Linked DNA regions of Homo sapiens: region 2 is reported to be linked to region 1. Evidence: microRNA targets listed by miRTarBase, many of them from high-throughput screens and not tested one by one. Region 1 holds a microRNA gene; the other region holds the end of a gene's coding sequence.
Evidence for each region. Region 1 holds the annotated microRNA hsa-miR-4766-3p (AUAGCAAUUGCUCUUUUGGAA, at 1,156-1,176, shown strand). A microRNA usually pairs through its seed, bases 2 to 8, with sites in the 3' UTR of a target mRNA and lowers its output. Matches are read on the target gene's strand: a 7mer-m8 pairs with bases 2 to 8, a 7mer-A1 pairs with bases 2 to 7 and ends in A, and an 8mer does both.

Region 2: miRTarBase lists RBBP4 as a target of hsa-miR-4766-3p. Seed matches in the 3' UTR shown: 7mer-A1 at 2,790-2,796.

What each region holds. Positions count from the first base shown.
Region 1 is chr22:40,811,654-40,815,068 of GRCh38, reverse strand. MIR4766 (microRNA 4766) reads left to right here and starts at 1,111; the gene lies at 1,111-1,186. All of the region lies in intron 1 of SLC25A17 (solute carrier family 25 member 17), which reads left to right.
Region 2 is chr1:32,679,010-32,682,424 of GRCh38, forward strand. RBBP4 (RB binding protein 4, chromatin remodeling factor) reads left to right here. Exons shown (of 12, transcript NM_005610.3): 12 at 631-3,415. The coding sequence ends at 696. It overlaps SYNC (syncoilin, intermediate filament protein), which reads right to left. Exons shown (of 5, transcript NM_030786.3): 5 at 897-2,851. The coding sequence ends at 2,841. Among named protein-coding and RNA genes, the nearest start is that of SYNC, 22 kb to the right of the region's middle.

The DNA of each region.
Region 1 (3,415 bases):
GGCGGGCAGATCACGAGGTCAGGAGATCGAGACCATCCTGACTAACACGGTGAAACCCCATCTCTACTAAAAATACAAAATATTAGCCGGGCATGGAGGCAGGCGCCTGTAGTCCCAGCTACTCGGGAGGCTGAGGCAGGAGAACGGCATGAACCCGGGAGGTGGAGCTTGCAGTGAGCCAAGATTGCGCCACTGCACTCCAGCCTGGACGACAGAGCAAGACTCCGTCTCAAAAACAAAAAAAACCAAAACAAAACAAAACAACAACAACAACAACAATATATATATATATATATATATATATATATATATATTCTGCACGTACTGCCTTTCCTCATCCTACTTTGACCACTGGAACTGTTCTTCCAAAGGTCAACTCTGACTTCCTAACAGCTTAATCTACTATTGTGAATGGTTTAAGGTCATGGATAACCAGGTACACACACATTTGTGTCTTTTCACAATGTCAGACTTTTATTGTGTTATTTCAGTTATAAAAGACAAGTTACATGGAGTTCTCAAGGAGGCAATTTTTATTAGTACTTCTCATTCACTAGGTAGTCAGTCAATATTGTAAATCATATATAATAGTATACCTAATTAATACATAAATGATGTAGATTAAACATTCTGCAACAAAGTAACATTGAACATCAAGAGAAAAGGGTGAGGAAAAAGGGTTACCTAACCAGTCCGGGGAGAGTGATATAGACAAGTATCCTGGTTTCATCATGGCAGTGTGTTGGTCTTGTAAGAAAGAATCCTTGATGTGGGCAGAGCCTTTGGACACAGATATCAGGCTTTTATAACAAGTGACAGCAAGACAGTGTCTGTTAAGACCATTTTGAGTTTTTTAAGTCCTGTTCTTTTTATGGTCACAGAGTCTTCTGGTAAGGACTGATAGTGGAAGAGCATGCTTGGTTGTGTCTTTATCTGGAAAAACATCTGGTCCCTGTTGTCAAAGTGCTTTTTGAAATGAAAGATAGGAGTCTTTTTCTAAGATGGAGTTACTTATGTCAAGAGTGCTCTATACATCTACTGACTGTTTTTGCATTCTTAATTGATTCCAGTTCTTTGTAAGTATTCTATACTGTTGACCCTTCTACCTTTCTGAAGCTCCTTCTGAAAGAGCAGTTGGTGTTTATTTTTTACTAAATAGCAATTGCTCTTTTGGAAGGAACTTGAGAAGACATTACTCCTTTTAGGGCCCTAAAATTAACAGTGGTTTCTACTACTAACAGATACTATAGCTATAAAGGACATGTAGAAACCAACAATTGTTGAGTGCCACCTGTGTGCCTGGTATGATGCTAGGTGCCAACCATAATTTTTTGTTTTTGTTTTTGAAACTCAGTCTCGCTCTGTCGCCCAGGCTGGAGTGCAGTGGCGTGATCTCGGCTCACTGCAAGCTCCGCCTCCTGGGTTCACGCCATTCTCCTGCCTCAGCCTTCCGAGTAGCTGGGACTACAGGTGTCTGCCACCACACCCGGCTAATCTTTTTGTATTTTTAATAGAGAGGGTATTTTTTTTTTATACAGAGTCTCGCTCTGTCACCCAGGCTGGAGTGCGGTGGCACGATCTCGGCTTACTGCAACCTCTGCCTCCCAGGTTCAAGTGATTCTCCTGCCACATCCTCCAGAGTACCTGGGACTACAGGTGTGTGCCACCACTCCTGGCTCATTTTTGTATTTTTAGTAGAGATGAGGTCTCACCGTGTTGGCCAGGCTGGTCTCGAACTCCTGACCTCAAGTGATCCACCCACCTCAGCCTCCCAAAGTGCTGGGATTGCAGGTGTGAGCCACCATGCCCAGCTACTTTCCATAATTTGATTCTAACTTCTCATAGCAACCTTGACAAATACCGGTCTCAAAATTACAAATGAGGAAATTGAGACATAGAGATTTGAAGTTACTTATGTAATATATACTATACTTGGGACGTAAACCTATATTTTATCCCTAAACACTCGAGAGTGTCATCCATGAGGCCATTTGTGTAACTTGCCTATCTGTCTGTGTATGTATGAGTTAGCTTGATTGTTATGTCAGGGAAAAGACTTACATTAACTCTGATGAGGTGAATAACATTTTTAAATATGAAAGCCATTGTAAGTGGCTTTTAATCTTTAGAATTTTATTAGCTCAAACCACAGAAAACATCTTAGGTGGTTTTTAAAAATTTTTTTAAATTTTTATTTGTTTTGAGACTAAGTCTCACTGTGTTTCCCAGGCTGGAGTGCTGTGGGATGATCACAGCTCACTGCAGCCTCAATCTCCTGAGCTCAAGCCATTCTCCCACCTCCTAAAGTGCTGGGATTGCAGGTGTGAGCCACCGTGTCTGGCTTTAAAATAATCTTTCTGTTCTATAATGCAGTGTTCTAAATCAGGAGAGGCTATACATTGATTTCAGTGGTGCTGCTGTGACTCAGCCACGTCGGGACCCCTCTGGAAACTGATTTTGGACTAGCATTGTCTTTTTTACCCCCACCACTAGTTTTCACCCTGCTAGGATGAATCAACATTTTAGAAACAGTCAGTCACATTTGGTGATTTGGTTGGTATACCAACCCAAACATCATTGTTTTATGCTTAAAAGGCATGAAAATATGCTTCTGTATTTATGTATGTTCTTATCTATTATTCCCATAAGATTGCACACGCTGGGGGGACCAAGTCTTGACCAGATTTACCCAGTGTTTCATTCTTACTCTATCTGTAAGCCCAACTTCATATGTGGATTGTGTTGACCAAATTAAAAAGTATACTTTAGATATTTACAGGAGAGATATAGCCCAGAATGAATAAACCATCTTTTTTTTTTAGTAAGTAGCCTGAAATGTAGATGATGATGCATTCTTAAGAAATCCAGGTGCCAGGCTGGGCGTGGTGGCTCACGCCTGTAATCATAGCACTTTGAGAGGCTGAGGCAGGCAAAACACTTGAGGCCAGGAGTTTGAGACCAGCCTGGGCAATGTAGTGAGACCTCATCTCTAAAAATAAATAAGTTAAAAAGAAAGAGAGAGAGAGAGAGAGAGAAAGAAAAAGAGAAAAAGAAAGAAATCCAGGTGTCAGTTCAGAATTGTTCACAAAAAAGAGGAACCCCCAAATCCCCAAGAACTTAGGCTAAAAATCGTTTATGTGACTGATACAGTTTGGATGTTTGACCCCTCCAAATCTCAGTTTGGATGTTTGACCCCTCCAAATCTCATGTTGAAATGTGACCCCCAGTGTTGGAGGTGAGGCCTAGTGGGAGGTGTTTGGGTCATGGGGGCAGATCCCTCATAAATGGCTTGGTGCCATCCCCTTGGTGATGAGTGAGTTCTCACTGTTAGTTCATGGGAGAGCTGGTTATTTAAAAGAGCCTGGTACCCACGCCTCTCTCTCTTACTCCCTCTCTTACCATGTGACATACCTGT
Region 2 (3,415 bases), not on the chromosome of region 1:
GGTTAGGCTGGGCACAATGGCTTACTCCTATAATCCTAGCACTTTGAGAGGCCGAGGTGGGCAGATCACCTGAGATCAGGAGTTCGAGACCAGCCTGGCCAACATGGTGAAACCCCATCTCTATTAAAAATACAAAAATTAGCCAGGCGTAGTGGCATGTGCCTGTAATCCTAGCTACTCTGGAGGCTGAGGCAGGAGAATTGCTTGAACCTGGGAGGCATAGGTTGCAGTGAGCCGAGATGGTGCCACTGCACTCCAGCCTGGGAGACAGAGCAAGGCTCCATCTCAAAAGGAAAGAAAAATAATAATGCCTGGTTAAAGAACTCAAGAATGTTGGCTATCAAGACAAATAGTATCCACACTGCAGTTTTGTGGGAATGTCCTAATCAGGCGTCTGGGGATCAGCTGCTTATTTTTATTGGAACATGATCATGCTAATTAATATTTCATTACCCATTATAGGTTGTCTCCGGATACTTTCATCCAAGAGTTGAATAGTTGTAACACAGATTGTGTGGCCCAAAAGCTATAAAGTATTTACTCTCTGGCTTCCTGGCCTAATCTGTTGTTGAAACCTTGAGTTTTAGAAGAAGTCTTCATGTTTAAATTCTTTTTCTTGTTTTTGGGCAGGCAGAGAACATTTATAATGATGAAGACCCTGAAGGAAGCGTGGATCCAGAAGGACAAGGGTCCTAGATATGTCTTTACTTGTTGTGATTTTAGACTCCCCTTTTTTCTTCTCAACCCTGAGAGTGATTTAACACTGGTTTTGAGACAGACTTTATTCAGCTATCCCTCTATATAATAGGTACCACCGATAATGCTATTAGCCCAAACCGTGGGTGTTTTCTAAATATTAATAGGGGGGCTTGATTCAACAAAGCCACAGACTTAACGTTGAAATTTTCTTCAGGAATTTTCTAGTAACCCAGGTCTAAAGTAGCTACAGAAAGGGGAATATTATGTGTGATTATTTTTCTTCTTATGCTATATCCCCAAGTTTTTCAGACTCATTTAAGTAAAGGCTAGAGTGAGTAAGGAATAGAGCCAAATGAGGTAGGTGTCTGAGCCATGAAGTATAAATACTGAAAGATGTCACTTTTATTCAGGAAATAGGGGGAGATTCAAGTCATATAGATTCCTACTCGAAAATCTTGACACCTGACTTTCCAGGATGCACATTTTCATACGTAGACCAGTTTCCTCTTGGTTTCTTCAGTTAAGTCAAAACAACACGTTCCTCTTTCCCCATATATTCATATATTTTTGCTCGTTAGTGTATTTCTTGAGCTGTTTTCATGTTGTTTATTTCCTGTCTGTGAAATGGTGTTTTTTTTTTTGTTGTTGGTTTTTTTTTTTTTTTTTTTAACTTGGGACCACCAAGTTGTAAAGATGTATGTTTTTACCTGACAGTTATACCACAGGTAGACTGTCAAGTTGAGAAGAGTGAATCAATAACTTGTATTTGTTTTAAAAATTAAATTAATCCTTGATAAGAGTTGCTTTTTTTTTTTAGGAGTTAGTCCTTGACCACTAGTTTGATGCCATCTCCATTTTGGGTGACCTGTTTCACCAGCAGGCCTGTTACTCTCCATGACTAACTGTGTAAGTGCTTAAAATGGAATAAATTGCTTTTCTACATAACCCCATGCTGATGGGTTTTATTTAGTATAAAACATCCATCAAACACCAGTCTCTGGCTTCTAGAAGAGTCCTTCAGATGACAGTTGTTGTCCATGGTCTTTGACTATCAAGAGCAGAATTAAATGTAATAGTCCCAGAGCTGTAGAAAAGAACTTTACTCCTTCCCAGGGAAAGTGAAAGACATAAAACACTGAATCAGAGGTGGCACAGATTAGTCTTTGATAAGGTAACGTTTCTTTGAAGTCTATCTGTAGAGAACTACATGGACTTCCAAGAGTGTCAAAGGCAGTGTGGTAGAGAGAATTTAAGGCAAGATTTAAATTTGGAAAAGGTGCTTGAACCTTTTCTCAGAGGTTTTATTTCCCCAGTATGTTTTTCACTGGGGCCTTTACTTAGGTTAGAAATAATAGGCTTTGAAGGCCTCTATCACCAGATGCAATAACCAGATAAAATTCCTGTTTTTTCCCAATCGCTTAGTTTTTTGTTGTTGTTGTTTTTTAACTGAGTAGATCATTCTGACCCAGAACTACTTTCATGAGGTAAGATCTTTGGGAAAATCTGAATAGCGTTAACCATTAGATTCAAATCTCAAATGGTTTCTTTTCAAGTCTAGTTGTTTTAGAGTATAGTGAGAAATACCTTGACACAATTTTAAGAGTAAACTATATGGGTCAGCATATCCTTGAACAAAAAGTAGACTTTGTAAAAGTATTCATTTAAATTCTAACACTCGTGGCACAAAAGAATGGAAATTGTAAACCCATGTAATGGAAATTGGCTATCTTTTTGACCCCACATGTGCCCCTCAAAAATGTTTTTGGTTTGGGTCAACACAAGGCAAGATACATTCTTTAAAATACTCCCAGATGTGTCCATACATTCATCCTTCACTCAGTGCATATGTGAGGGTTGTTGCTGGAAGACAGGAGGCTCATCTTTCCTTTCCTTGGTGCATTGAGATCAGTATCAACAGCAGATGAAATAGAATCCAGCAAAGAGTTGACATGTTCTGCCTCCGGCCAACTCTAGAATCTTTTTAAGCAGGTCAGCCAGTATTTGCAACTTCCACAGGATGAATTGCTTGCCAAGTTTCTGGCACTCTTGTCTGGTTGGAAGAGTACATCCAAAGGGTACTTAGTGATCCTTTGCTAAGAAGTTTTTTGCTGTTTCCGGGTTACAGATTTGGCCATATATTTCTAAACAGCCCCTGTAAAGTTGAAAGAAAAAGTTTATAACAGTGAACTTCTGAGGTTTAGTTACTGCAGGCTTTGTTGAGAAGAGATTGTTACAGTGTGATTTATGGATGATCAGGGATGACTTTCCCCTAGCAAATATTTGGATGCCTCCTGTTTGTCAAATAGAATGAATGGTGATGGTGATGGGAGGGATAGTTAAACGTTTTCTCTGCTAGGTTAACTTCTTACAGGTATAATTACAATGCCTGAAATTCTGTAGTTTCATTTCTTTGGATTAGTCGTTGTCTTTTCCAGATTGTACACAATCTGATCAACACAAAGGTAGTTAGTAGATCATTAACCTCAATTGCAAGGTTATAATTTCTCAAACATTAAGCATATTATCAGTCATGTGGATTCAAACACAGTATAAGAAAATCCTCAAGGCTGGGTGTGATGGCTTATGCCTGTAATCCCAGCTACTTAGCAGGCTGAGGCAGGAGTATTGTTTGAACCCAGGAGGCAGAGTTGCAGTGAGCCAAGATCGTGCCACTACTCCAGCCTGGGCAAAATAGCAAGACCCGACCCCCCATCTC